Homo sapiens: one gene and its partner. The protein of the gene in region 1 purifies or fractionates together with the protein of each later gene. This does not show direct contact. Each region holds a gene or a part of one and is shown on either strand. Other genes may lie near its edges. The genes, in order: ATP2A1 and NPTN.

Evidence for each region.
Region 2: the proteins of ATP2A1 (region 1) and NPTN purify together in Homo sapiens (affinity purification with mass spectrometry; 2 studies listed by BioGRID and IntAct, with this or other methods). This does not show direct contact.

What each region holds. Positions count from the first base shown.
Region 1 is NC_000016.10:28,895,218-28,902,487, forward strand, and holds part of ATP2A1 (sarcoplasmic/endoplasmic reticulum calcium ATPase 1), read left to right. Parts: intron 1-2,782; coding exon 2,783-2,908; intron 2,909-3,015; coding exon 3,016-3,234; intron 3,235-5,363; coding exon 5,364-5,699; intron 5,700-6,645; coding exon 6,646-6,866; intron 6,867-6,966; coding exon 6,967-7,169; intron 7,170-7,270. UniProt on the Homo sapiens protein: Key regulator of striated muscle performance by acting as the major Ca(2+) ATPase responsible for the reuptake of cytosolic Ca(2+) into the sarcoplasmic reticulum.
Region 2 is NC_000015.10:73,567,353-73,574,622, forward strand, and holds part of NPTN (neuroplastin isoform b precursor), read right to left. Parts: intron 6,444-7,270; coding exon 6,310-6,443; intron 3,072-6,309; coding exon 2,798-3,071; intron 2,455-2,797; coding exon of another isoform or gene 2,438-2,454; exon of another isoform or gene 2,362-2,437; intron 2,192-2,361; exon of another isoform or gene 1-2,191. UniProt on the Homo sapiens protein: Probable homophilic and heterophilic cell adhesion molecule involved in long term potentiation at hippocampal excitatory synapses through activation of p38MAPK. May also regulate neurite outgrowth by activating the FGFR1 signaling pathway.

The DNA of each region.
Region 1 (7,270 bases):
ACCACAAGGGACCCATCCAGGAGCAGCCCCAACTTCATCTGTTATTCCTTTGTTTCTAGAAGCACACTTGTTTTCAGCAGATGATGAGTCCTGACTTAGGATTTGGGAAATGTGGCTACTGCACCTATAGGGAAAGCCTTTCCTTGCCCAGATGAACCCGGCCACTTCTAGGACTGTCACTCCCAGTTATTGCTATTGATACTTGCTGAACGTCTCCATTAAGCACTTCTCTCTGGGGAATTATATTCCCCACATTTCTCTCTTTCTCTCTTTTTTTGTATATGCAAAATGCTCATTGCTACTTTATTTAATATAACAAAAAAGCGGGCCAGACACAGAGACTCACGCCTATAGTCCCAGCATTCTGGGAGGCTGAGGTGGGAGGATCACTTGAGCCCAGGAGTTTAAGACCGGCCTGGGCAACATAGTGAGACCCGCATCTCTACAAAAAAAAACGAAAACAAAAACAAAGAAAGAAAGAAAAAAAAAAGAAAAAAATTAGTTGGGTGTGGTGGTGCAAAACTGTACTCTAGCTACTAGGAAGGCTAAGGTGTGAGGACTGCTGGAGCCCAGGAGGTCAAGGCTGCAGCAAGCAGTGATTGCACCACTGCACTCCAGCCTGGGCAACAGAGGGAGACCCTGTCTCCAAAATAAACAAACTGAAAGCAACTTAAATACCTGTCAATAGAGGACTAATTTTTAAAATTTATAAATGATAATGCAAACATAAATTTTTATTTATTTATTTTTGAGATGGGGTCTTGGCCTGTCGCCCAGGCTGGAGTGCAATGGCTATTCATAGGTGTGATCACAGCGCACTGCAGCCTTGAACTCCTGGGCTCAAACCATCCTCCTGCCTCAGCCTTCCAAGTAGATGAAGCTACAGGCATGCACCACTTTTCCTGGCTACTGATGTTTTGTTCTTTTTATTTTTGTTTTATTTTTTGGAGAAGTATCCATGATACATTTGGTGAAAAAGGCTTTCATTCTTTTTGTTTGTTTGTTTGTTTGTTTGTTTGTCTGTCTGTTTTGAGAGTCTTGCGGTGTCACACATTCTGGAGTACAGTGGCATGATCTCAGCTCACCACAACCTCCGCCTCCTGGGTTCAAGCAATTCTCCTGCCTCAGCCTCCCTAGTAGCTGGGATTACAGATGCAAGCCACAATGCCCAGCTAACTTTCTGTATTTTTAGTAGAGACGAGTTTTTTTTTTTGAGACGGAGTCTCTCTGCTTTGCCCAGGCTGAAGTGCAGTGGGGCCATCTCGGCTCACTGCAACCTCCGCCTCCTGGGTTCAAGCAATTCTCTTGCCTCGGCCTCCTGAATAGCTGAGATTACAGGCATGTGCCACAACGCCCAACTAATTTTTGTATTTTTAGTAGAGATGGGGTTTCCCCATGTTGGTCAGGCTGGTCTTGAACTCTTGACCTCGTGATCTGCCTGCCTCGGCCTCCCAAAGTGCTGGGATTACAGGCGTGAGCCACTGCGCCTGGCCTTCATTTTTTTTTTTTTTTTTTTTGAGACAGAGTTTTGCTCTTGTTGCCCAGGCTGGAGTGCAATGGTGTGATCCTGGGTTCAAGTGATTGTCCTGCCTCAGCCTCCCGAGTAGCTAGAATTACAGGCACGTGCCACCACGCCTGGCTGATTTTGTATTTTTAGTAGAGACGGGGTTTCTCCATGTTGGTTAAGCTGGTCTACTACTAAAAAATACAAAAATTAGCTGGACATGGTGGCGTGTGCCTGTAATCCCAGCTACTTGGGGGGCTGAGGCAGGAGAATGGCTTGAACCTGGGAGGCAGAGGTGGTAGTGAGCCAAGACTGCACCACTGCCCTCCAGCCTAAGCAACAGAGCAAGACTCCATCTCAATATAAATAAATAAAAATTAATTCAAATTAAATAATATACAGAGTACCTCCAATGCTCCACAGCAATTGCTCAGTTGCACCAATTGTACAGTGCAGATCACATAACATTTCTATCATTACTAAAAGTTATAGGGCCAGGTGTGGTGGTTCATGCCTGTAATCCCAATGCTTTAGGAGGCCAAGGCAAGAGGATTGCTTGAGGCCACGAGTGAGACCAGGCTGGACAACACAGGGAGACTCTATCTCTAAAACATTTTTTTAAAATTAGCCTGGAGTGGTGGCATACACCTGTGGTCCCAGCTACTCAGCTGGCTGGGAGGCTGAGGCAGGAGGATTGCCAGAGCCAAGGCTACAGTGGGCTATGATCACGTCATTGTACTTCAGCCTAGGAGACAGCGCAAGACTCTGTCTCTAAAGAAAAAAATAAGTAAATAAAAATAAATAAACAAACAATGAAAGTTTTTTTTTCTTTTTTCTGAGACGGAGTCTCGCTTTGTCGCCCAGGCTGGAGTACAATGGTGCGATCTTGGCTCACTGCAATCTCTGCCCAGCTAATTTTTGTATTTTTAGTAGAGACAGGGTTTCACCATGTTGGCCAGGCTGGTCTCGAACTCCTGACCTCAAGTGATTCACCCGCCTCAGCCTCCTGAAGTGCTGGGATTACAGGCATGAGCCACCGCGCCTGGCCAATAATGAAAGTTCTGTGGGACAGTGCCACAATAGGCCATCCTTTTCTTCTGTGCTTTAACCTAGGACCCTGAAGCACTGTGGCAACACTAGCCTTGGGATTTTCTCCTTTTGTGCTATAGGGACCAGACTTAGTGTTAGTCTCAGCCTTAGCTTGGGGTCTGCTCTGACCTCCAGATTCTTTTTGACCATTTTAAGAGGACTGGTCTCCCCTCCCTGTCTCCTCTCCAGGTGATCCGCCAGCTAATGAAGAAGGAATTCACCCTGGAGTTCTCCCGAGACAGAAAGTCCATGTCTGTCTATTGCTCCCCAGCCAAATCTTCCCGGGCTGCTGTGGGCAACAAGATGTTTGTCAAGGTCAGAAATCGGAATGTGCCTCAGCCCCCTCTTCTTCCTACTCCTAGCCACCTGTCACTGCCCTGGAAGGAAAGTGGTGGTCTCTGAATGCTGTTCTGGTCTCCTAGGGTGCCCCTGAGGGCGTCATCGACCGCTGTAACTATGTGCGAGTTGGCACCACCCGGGTGCCACTGACGGGGCCGGTGAAGGAAAAGATCATGGCGGTGATCAAGGAGTGGGGCACTGGCCGGGACACCCTGCGCTGCTTGGCCCTGGCCACCCGGGACACCCCCCCGAAGCGAGAGGAAATGGTCCTGGATGACTCTGCCAGGTTCCTGGAGTATGAGGTAAGCAGCTGGGAGCCTCCCACTGTCGTGGAGCTGGTGAAGGGCCGGGTCCCAGCCATCCACTCACAGCTCCACCACCCGGATCATTTCCTACCTCGTCAGTCAAGTTGATGGCTCCTTAGTACAGGCCATGGAATCACAGGACAGTAGAGTTTCAGAGAACCTTGGGAGGCCGGGTGCAGTGACTCACACCTGTAATCTCAGCACTTTGGGAAGCTGAGATGGGAAAAGCGCTTGAGCCCAGGAGTTCAAGACCAGCCTGGGCAATGAAGTGAGAACCCCATCTCTATTAAAAAAAAAATTTTTTTAATTACCTGGTTAAATTCATAGGGGTCTGGGTAAAAAGTAAAATACATTTTTAAAAATGTTAAAAGAAAAGAGATGAACTGGACATGGTGACACACACCTGTAGACCCAGCTACTGGGGAGCCTGAGGTGGGAGGATCACTTGAACCTAGGAGTTGGAGGCTGCAGTGAGCCATGATCCCACCACTGCACTCCAGCCTGCATGACAAGCAAGGCCCTGTCTCTAAAAACAAAAAACAAAAACACACACACACACACACAAAAGAGAGAAAGAATGAACCTTGGGAATCATCTAGCAAATGTGATCTGTGGTTGGTAACAAGGTGAGCCACTTGAACCAGAACAGGAGCCAATGCCACTCAGCACATAGGGGAGTTCAGCTGTTGTGTTTTCTGTAGCAAGACTGTCTCGAGACAGTTGATCTGTGTTCTGGCAAAGACTCCTTACTTCTACTAGACCAGCGCCAGAATGGCACCACAGTCCCTCCTTTCATTTTGTACAGAGGATTTCTTCTAAGTTGTGGGTCACGTAGTGGCACTGCCAAAAGCAGAAAGCAGTACCTCACTTCCAGTTCACGTTCTTTCTATGAAACACACATTTTGGCTGGGCATGGTGGCTCCCATCTGTAATCCCAGCATTTTGGGAGGCCAAGGCAGGCAGATCACAAGGTCAGGAGTTTGAGACCAGCCTGGCCAATATGGTGAAACTCCATCTCTACTAAAAATACAAAAATTAGCTGGGCTTGGTGGTGGGCACCTGTAATCCCAGCTACTCTGGAGGCTGAGGCAGGAGAATCGCTTGAACCTGGGAGGCGGAGGTTGCAGTGAGCAGAGATCGTGCCACTGCACTCCAGCCTGGGCAACAGAGCGAGACTCCATCCCCTGCGCCCGCCCCCCCCCCCCCGAAAAAGACACAATTTGGGGCCACGTGTCAGGGCTCACACCTATAATGCCAGCACTTTGGGAGGCCAAGCCTGGCAGATCACTTGAGGTTAGGAGTTTGAGACCAACCTGGCCAACATGGTAAAACCAAGTCTCTACTAAAATAAAAAAATTAGCCAGGCGTGGTGGTGCGCCCTTATAATCCCAGCTACTCAGGAGGCTGAGGCGGAGAATCGCTTCAACTTGGGAGGTGGAGGTTGCAGTGAGCTGAGATCATGCCATTGCCACTGCACTCCAGCGTGGGTGACAGAGCAAGAGTCCATCTCAAAAAACAAAACAAAAACAAAAACAAAAAAAAGGAAAGACACGATTTGGGCTGGGCGTGGTAGCTTATGCCTGTAATCGCAGCACATTGGGAGGCCGAGGCTGGAGGATCTGTTGAGCCCAGGAGTTTGAGACCAGCCTGGGCAACATAGCAAGATCCTTTCTCTACTAAAAATTAAAAAAAAAAAATTAGCTGGACATGTTGGTGCATGCCTGTAGTCCCAGCTACTTGGGAGGGTGAGGTAGGAGGATCGCTTGAGCCTGGTAGATTGAGGCTGCAGTGAGCTATGATCGCACCGTTGTACCACTGCACTCCAGCCTGGGTGACAGAGCAATACCCTGTCTCAAAAAAAAAAAGATACGATCTGACCCATGATGGGCCTGGCACCATCAGCACCTGCAGGTGCTTAGATGAATGAGATGTTTCCTGCCTCTGAGCTTCCAAGGCCCCACTGAGGTCTGACACCAGGCCCTGAGGCGGCAAGCCCAGGGTTCAGGCTTCCCACCCCTCCCCACCACTTCCTGACCTTTCACCCCATCCCCACCCCCCACCAGCTTCCTCCAGGGGAGTTTTCCAGATCCCCACCTGACCTGTGGCTCTCTGCTGTATCTCCCCAGACGGACCTGACATTCGTGGGTGTAGTGGGCATGCTGGACCCTCCGCGCAAGGAGGTCACGGGCTCCATCCAGCTGTGCCGTGACGCCGGGATCCGGGTGATCATGATCACTGGGGACAACAAGGGCACAGCCATTGCCATCTGCCGGCGAATTGGCATCTTTGGGGAGAACGAGGAGGTGGCCGATCGCGCCTACACGGGCCGAGAGTTCGACGACCTGCCCCTGGCTGAACAGCGGGAAGCCTGCCGACGTGCCTGCTGCTTCGCCCGTGTGGAGCCCTCGCACAAGTCCAAGATTGTGGAGTACCTGCAGTCCTACGATGAGATCACAGCCATGGTGAGAGGGCCCAGGCAGCTGCAGCCTTAGTGTCCACGGAGATGACCAGATGACTGTGCTGGGGAGAGTGGGGCCCAGGGCCAGAGGGCCCTGGTAAGATGCAAGAAGGGTGGGGATTCAGACCCCAAGGAAGAGTCTGAAGGAGGATTTGTGGGCTGGGCCTGGCACTTTGGGAGGCTGAGGTGGGCGGATCACTTGAGCAGGAGTTCGAGACCAGCCTGGGCAACATAGCAAGACCTCATCTCTACTAAAACAAAACTTTAAAAATAAATTTAGCCTCACAGTGGCACATATTTGTGGTCCTAGCTACTTGGGAGCCTGAGGTGGATCACTTGAGCACAGTTTGAGGGTGCAGAAAGTTATGACTGCACCACTGCACTTCAGCCTGGGCAATAGAGTGAGACCCTGTCTCAAAAAAAAAAAAAAAAAAAAAAGGTGGGCGGAGGGGCTCATGCCTGTAATCCCAGAACTTAAGGAGACTGAGGCAGGCAGATCACCTGAGGTCAAGAGTTTGAGACCAGCCTGGACAACATGGCAAGACCCCATCTCTACCAAAAAATACAAAAATTGGCCGTGCGTGGTGGCACATGCCTGTAGTCCCAGTTACTCAGGAGGCTGAGACAGAAGAACTGCTTGAACCTGGGAGGCGGAGGTTGCAGTGAGCTGAGATTGCGCCACTGCATTCCAGCCTGGGCGACAGAGTGAGACTCCGTCTCAAAAAAAAAAGTGTGCCGATCTTTGTTCTAAACTGAGTTTTTGGCCAAGTGTGGTGGCACATGCCTGTAATCCCAACACTTTGGGAGGCTGAGGCAGGAGGATTGCTTGAGCCCAGGAGTTCAAGACCAGCCTGGGCAACAGAGTGAGACCTCATCCCTAAAATAAAACCTTTTTTAAAAAGGAGGGATGTGTGAAGGTGCCCTAAGCCCACCTTCTCCTCCTCCCTCAGACAGGTGATGGCGTCAATGACGCCCCTGCCCTGAAGAAGGCTGAGATTGGCATTGCCATGGGATCTGGCACTGCCGTGGCCAAGACTGCCTCTGAGATGGTGCTGGCTGACGACAACTTCTCCACCATCGTAGCTGCTGTGGAGGAGGGCCGCGCCATCTACAACAACATGAAGCAGTTCATCCGCTACCTCATTTCCTCCAACGTGGGCGAGGTGGTCTGGTGAGCAGCTGGGTGGGCGTCCAGGAGGAAGCCGGGGTTAGGGTGGGGTGGCTGCAGGTCTGGGAGGCAGGACAGAGGTGTGACCACCTCCTTCCCACAGTATCTTCCTGACCGCTGCCCTGGGGCTGCCTGAGGCCCTGATCCCGGTGCAGCTGCTATGGGTGAACTTGGTGACCGACGGGCTCCCAGCCACAGCCCTGGGCTTCAACCCACCAGACCTGGACATCATGGACCGCCCCCCCCGGAGCCCCAAGGAGCCCCTCATCAGTGGCTGGCTCTTCTTCCGCTACATGGCAATCGGGGGTGAGCTGGAGGGGTTCCTCGATCCTCCCCACCCCTTGGGACTAACCCCCTCTCTGGGACACCAGCTCCCCCATGCAGGTGCTGAGAGGGTCTTCTTCCTT
Region 2 (7,270 bases), on another chromosome or scaffold:
AAAAATCCAACACAGAGCCACAGATGGTTATCTGATAGGTAAACACTTATGACCTCTTAACACTCCCAAGTTTGTGTCAAATATAATGTACCTCTTCGTTTATTCCAAAAGGAGTGTACGTATATATCTATATGAAAATTTGGGGAGAAGCACATGGGAAGGAAGCAGACAGGTAAGTTTGTCCTTCCTATGGAGTGCACAGGGGTTGAGGGGAACTGGCTAAAGAAGGAAAAGGCAGAGAAGAAGGAAACTCACCAAAGAACATTCAACTTTTTCTTTTGTTTAATGATTACTTCCAGGAAAGGAGAAGAAAAGCGGGCAGGGGTGGAAGCAGGATGGAGTTTGAGAGAAAGACAGAAAGAGACAGAGGAGAAAAACAGAATGGAAATACTGGAGCAAGGGCAGGGTGTGAAGATGGAGAGTGGAGCCTGGCCCACACTGGCTGTCAGGAAGGGAAGGAGAGAAGGCAAACATTGCCATCATTCCAGCATCTCAGATTTTTCACCCCAATGCAACAACAACGAAGTAAACGCTGCTTTCATTACAATACTCTCCCAAGAGACTAGAGCAAGGAGGTTTTACTTTGCACTTACCCTGCCGTCATCTCTTTTAAGGGTAGGATTCATTCACTGTCTATAATAACTTAGTTTAAAAGAGGTACTTTCCCTCTAGGAAGCTGTTCAGATTTGCTGGCCACAGATGTCTCCTATAACAAACTGGTCCCCCATTTGATTTCAGTAACCAAGAAAACTCTTACAAAAAAAGAGCTGCTTCCCTGGGCAGGTGTCTGCACTTATCCAACAGAACAATCCTAACCATTTCTCAAATCTAACCTACCACATGCACTGTGATAGCAACCTCATAAGCGCGGTGACTTCTTAGGGCAAAGACTAGACCTCTGCTGGGAACACGCTAGGCTGCTGCATCACTCTCACCAGTGGCAGCCAGCCTTGCCTTAAAATTTAAAAATCAGGTTCTGAAGTCCATCTCTGCCTTCTCTTACCTGACTTTTTAGCTTCTCAACCTTTCCAAAAGGCAGGCTGAGGAAGGTGGTATTGGCAAAGCAAAAGCATTCTGGGGGGATAAAAAGGCCCTTTTCAGGAATGAGGCATAACTGATCCCACAGAGCCAAAGCTGAAAACACACGAAAGACAGGCAACTCTTTCCCTTTACTCCCAGGTCTAAATAAAGGTGCACTCTTGCCTTGGGAGTCCTAATATGTAGCAGGAAAGAAATACCTGGAGAGAAAAAGCATTAGGAGTACATGAAATCCCAAAGAAAGCAGGTTCACTTCATAAAGTAGGAAAGTAAAACTCATGGGGACACTCCCAGGTTGCAGGAAACTAGAGATTCATTTGCAGAGGCCGTCTGCTCCCAGCCAACGTCCTTCCCACGCCTCTGCCCAGCTCACTGCTGAGTGCACATCTGGAGGGAGTCACCAGATATTGTCAGTGTCATCAACAAACCTCCTCACCAGCCACTCACTCTACTTACTGCAGGCAGAGAGATTTATAACTGCTGAGAAGAAAGGAAAAGATGGGGAAGGGGCTGTTGCTCTCAAACATGTCCTCCCAGAGAGTCTAAAGCCACTGGCATGCCTCTGGGGCCACATTCTTTCTGAGGGAGCACCAGATGTCACTTTGTATTCTCCACTGGACAGCCAGCTCTGTGGGGCAGGATACAGCACCACAGGTGCACAAACACAGGCCCCAGAACAGCTGGACTACAGCTGGCAACCCCACCATCACCCCGGGTAGGCTACCACTGAGCCCAGGGGCACACCCATCTGTCTAGTCTAGCCAGGGACAGACTAGTGGTGGTAACAGTCGGCCAATTAATTTCTGTACGCCGGTCATGTTATAGGGTGGGGATGGGGAGCCAGCTGGGAACCTGAAGTACTGCAGATACAAGTCTCCATCAGCAGCTTCCCCCTTCACAGGAAAAATCGATCACCAAAAATTTCCCAAGGCTTTTCTGACTCTAGGCATATCCAATAACCTAAGATTTCAGCTCTTGCTCTTTCCAGTGCTCAGTGGTGTGCTGTGGTTCTGCTGCTACCATCTCCTCCCTTCTCTGACCCTAGGCCAGCTTGAGGGCACAGCCTCGGGGCATGGACTCCATTTGTTCCGCCTTTGCTATCTCTGTCTTACACTAGATGGGTGGATACATCAGACTCTCCTTTGTCTGTGAGACACAGATGGAAAGCCACCCAGCAGAGAGCGCTGGAAACCTATCAAAGGGACCAACCAAGGAACCAAAAGCTGGCTTGTTCCAATGGCTTTTCTGAGAACAGTCTGACTGGGCTGGGGCAGTTACCTACAGGGGCTACACCAGGCAACCATGTGACAACCAGTTAGATACCTTAAATCTGCCTGAAAGGCCAGGTGGCCTGCCATCTTGGGGTGGCTTCTAGGCTTGACTTGGATTCTCCTCAAGCTCAATCTGCCTGATGATCTGTATTGAAGGAGGACAGAGCTGAACAAAGAGACTGACAGCTGCCCATTCACCACATGGGGCCTGAAAGGCAGATGGGACTAGGGTTTGGAAAACACCCAAACAGAGGGAGAGAGCTAAGGACAGCTCTAGATGGCTAATGCAAAAAAAATAAAAATAAAATAAAAATAAAAAATAAAAATAAAAAACTCTTACGGGTAGGGGGTTAGGAACTGGTATAAGAATTTTCCTTCTTTCCTTTAGGGATTGAATCCCAACATCCCTATAGTCCTCTTTGGGTACTTGGAAACCACCCGAAGGAACCAACCCCAGCAGTACAGCTATTTTGTAGGGATGCTCTTACCGTCAGGAACCTCATCTGGCCTCTTCCTCTTCTCATACACAACAATGATCACCACAAGGATGATAATTTCAGCCAGAATTCCCAAGAAAGGCCAGAGTGGGGCCAGGTGGCTCCGCACCCTGAGGACAGTGACAACAGAGGCGGAGCCAATGGCGTTGGTGGCATTACATTCATACTCGCCAGGGTCTTCCGTGATCTGCAGGTTCACAATGTTCAACTCAGTGTAATTTTCCTTGTTGATGATGAAGAAGCGGCCAGAGGTATTGACAATGTCCTGCAAAAAAGTGAGAATACACAAAGGTGAGAGTGAGTAACTGAGCTAATGTTCAAGAGAGGGTGACACTGCTCTCCGTTCTTTTTAGGCACCAGCCAGAATGAGGAAGCAGTGTCTAGGAACATTTCATTAATGATTTCCCTTCAGTATCAACAACAACAAATCAACTTCTGACAGAGCCAGGCAAGCCTCCCTTACCATCGGTCCTCCAGACTTCCCCGACTTCCACGAAGTGAGTGCAGGTCCTACTGCCTGGAGACTCAGAAAAGTCCAACAACCTAGTAAATGCTGCCTCCAACACCAGGTAAGAAACCACAGCAGAAAGAGGACGGCAGAAGGAGGGGTACAACCCCTACAGTCAGGCATGCCTCGGGGACCTCAGGCCTCTCTGATGACCTCAGAGTCAGCACACTGACTTCACACTTGGTGAGTTCTGAGGAAGTCTCCTTAAACTTCCTCCACAAACAATGCTAAGAACTCACTCCTAGTCAGACTGGGGGAAATTCATAACTTTCCTTTCATTTAAGGACTAGAGGTTAGAGGAAAGGTTATTCAATCAATCAACAAATATTTGTGGCTGGGCACAGAGGCTCATGCCTGTAATCTCAGCACTTTAGGAAGCTAAGGTGGGAGGATCGCTTGAGCCCAGGAGTTCAAGACTGGCCTTGGCAACAAACTGAGACCCCATCTCTACAAAAAATCAAAAATAAAATTAGCTGAGCATAGTGGTGTACACCTGTGGTCCCAGCTACACAGAAGGCTGAGGCAGGAGGATCACATGAGCCCAGGAGGTTGCTGCACTCCAGCCTGGTAGACAGATCAAGACCCTGTCTTAACACAAAACAAAACAAACAAATAAAAGAGAACAAATATTTACTAAAATATGCTGCATGCTTTATATCCTACTAAGGGCAGGTGGGAGTGAGAAGGTGAGATAGGGAGAAGACAGACCTAGAAATGAATAAGGAGCTTGGCCTCAAAAGGGAACCAGACATCCAAAAAGGGATGACTGATTTCAGGAATGTGTTAAGAAGCCCCAACAGAGCGTGTGTATAGAGTGCTGTAGGGCACAGTGAGTGGCCACTGCTGGAAAGAGTCAGGGAAAGCTTCACACATGAGCTAACATTTGCACTAGACTGTGGAGGAGGACAGCTGATCAAACAGGGAGGAGCAGTGCAGGCAGGGATTCGCATGGGTGTGAAGGCAGAGGTGCAAGAGTGCACAGGCAGAGGTCGGGACTCAGCGGGATGGCTCACTGCACTCAGCTCATGAGATCCCGGCAGGGAAAAAACAGACTCATGTGTCTTTACCCTGCAACAACTAAAGCACAATCAGAAATAGGAGAGAAAAAGGGGAATATTATCCTGGAAATGATTCTAGATATGGCATACAATCTTGTCAGCATTTGAGTGCAGGTACATCTGAAATGGGGAACTCGTAAGCTTTTAAAACAGCTAGTCTGTGATGCCTCAAGCTTCATCTTTCAGATTAAAACACATACTGCGTTAATTCCAACCTGCTTTGGCAAAAGCTCAAGGGCACTCCTTCCCAGTGACCAGCAGAGAGAAGTGGACATTTCCTCTCCAGTGCCTTAGAAAGTTCAGTGTCTTGTAAAAAAGACTCAGCATCTTCACCTCGGCAATCCTCATCCTGCTCCTCGTTAACGGGTCTCTGAAATCATCGCTGATGTTGGAGTCATTATCACAACTCAACATTTTATTATCAAGATGTCATGAAGTAGGAAGAATAATGGACTTGAAATTTAAAAAAACTAGATACAACTCTTGGTTTTGCCACTAATTTATCTTGGCTACTATGGAACCCTTCCAAAGAAGATGGATTAATGATCTTTAAGGTCCTTTTGGATTCTGAAGACTGATAATCAAAGAGGATCCATGGGATCAGAGGAACGCTTGACACGCTCTCTGACAGAAAAGGTAATGGGTCAACAATCATAATGAGAGAGAAAGTGAGGTTCTAAAGCTCTGACTCTCCAAACAACATCATGAATCATCCCACTGATCGGAAAAGATGTTCTCTTTGACATTTTCTGGGGCAAATACCGTCAGGTTCCCAATGTCTAAGGCTGCCAAGGCTGCCCTTGGGCCTCCTCAGGTTGCCCCGATTCCTTATCAGTATGTTCTGTGTTGCAGGAATGTACTAGTAATTGCCCTCAGTACCTTGGGCCTCCTCAGGTTGCCCCAATTCCTTATCAGTATGTTCTGTGTTGCAGGAATGTACTAATAATTGCCCTCAGTACCTTGTTTCCTACTAAAAAAACAAGGCAGGTTCTCTAAGACCACTTCAAAAACAGTATTTTCTTCAGGATAAATGGACGAGAATTAGGCTCGGTTCTTTCAGTGTCCTATCCTGAAGGCAAGTGATATGGTTTGGATTTTGTCTTCACCCCAATTTCATGGTGAATTATAATCCCCAGTGTTGGAGGAGGGGCCTTGTGGGAGGTGACAGGATCATGGGGGCGGATATCCCCTTTGCTGTTCTCCTGACAGTGAATTCTCATGAGACCCGGTTGTTTAAAAGTGTGTAGCATCTCCCTCCTTCACTCTCTTCCTCCTCTCCAGCCACCTAGGACCTGCCTGCTTCCCCTTCACCTTCCACCATGATTCTAAGTTTCTCTACTTACAGGGATCACTTAAGAAGAAATAAACAGCAACTGCAGTCTAAAAAATAGGTAAGTTTCAAGGATCAAAGAAGCCTGAGGGGGAGGCTAATTCTTTGGATTTAGCTTTATCTTAACTATATTACCTGTCAATGCCTCACCTTCAGTTACAGTAATCTGAAAGCAATAAAACTCAAAGCAGGCCAGATGTCACTCTGTTGTCTAAGATAGGAAAGATCATCTTTCCTGTGTTTCCTGAGGCCTCCCCGGCAATGCTTCCTGTAAAGCCTGTGGAATCATGAGCCAATTAAACCTTTTTTCTTTATAAATTACCCAGTCTCTGGAAGTTCTTTAGAGCAAAGTGAGAATGGACTAATACAGTGAGCAATCTAATCTCTTACCAGAGGGACAGCTTTAACAAATCACGTACAGGGATTTTTGTGCTGGAAGAGACTGTCAATGACCTCTTGATTCATGCTGTAAACCGTGACTCTAGAAAGGGTGACCCTCGCCATGCACACATCCGAGGATACAGCTACTACAGTAACTGACCCACGTGTCTGGACCTCTGCAGGGAAAACTCCAGCAACCAGAGACCCGGGCCTGCCTCCTACTCACCATGGGCATCCCGTTCTCCTTCTTGCGCCATATCCAGTCTGGGTGGGGGTAGCCAACTGACTTGCAATACATAGTGGCATCCTGCCCTTCATTCTTGTTCTCACTCCGTTTATGGCCAGTGATGTCAGGAGCGGCTGTGAGAAAGCGTTAGACGCAGTTACCACGGAAGTCTACTCCAAACAGGATACAAAGGCCCCACCTTCTGGCTCAGAGCCCTGCTTGTAATGTAGTCAGTCTTTATGCTTACTGTCATACTCAGCTTTGATGAAGAGCATTTCAGGTCAGAATAGGGTAAAGGGACCAAACCCATCCTCTACCCCCCACCCGCTAAAGATGCCCAGGCAGATACCAGGGTTACTAATATATGAGGCTCTACTAATGTAGGTGATTCTCCAACCTACTGGAAAAGGATGCAGGTCCAACTGCCCTCAATTAAGCCTACCTTTAAAGAAAATGCAAACAAACACTATTATCTCTTCTATCGGCCCAAGTTTTTTCTTAAAACACCTGCATGAACAACAGTTATGCATCCTGTCAAATATCACACATTCCCTTAAGGAAATGAGATTCTGAGATAAAACAACTACAATCAAGTCCTATTACAAGGTATGTAAAAACAATGAATGCTTGGAGAAGCTACTCAATAAGTAACAATGACCAAGGCTCTCCCAGGAAAGAGGGAATCCAGAAACTGGTCTTCACAAGGAGGAAGAAAGGAATGAACAGGAAATTCAACCAGTGTCCCAAGAGATTTTTTTTTTAATTGAATGACTGATTGAGATGGGGTCTTATTCTATCGTCCAGGCTGGAGCATAGTGGCATGATCGCTGCTCACTGTAGCCTCAAGCTCCTGGGCTTAAGTGATCCTCAGCTCCCGAGTAACTAGAACTACAGGCACATGCCACTACACCTGGTTAATTTTTAAATTTCTTGTATAGACGGGGTCTTACTATATTGCCCA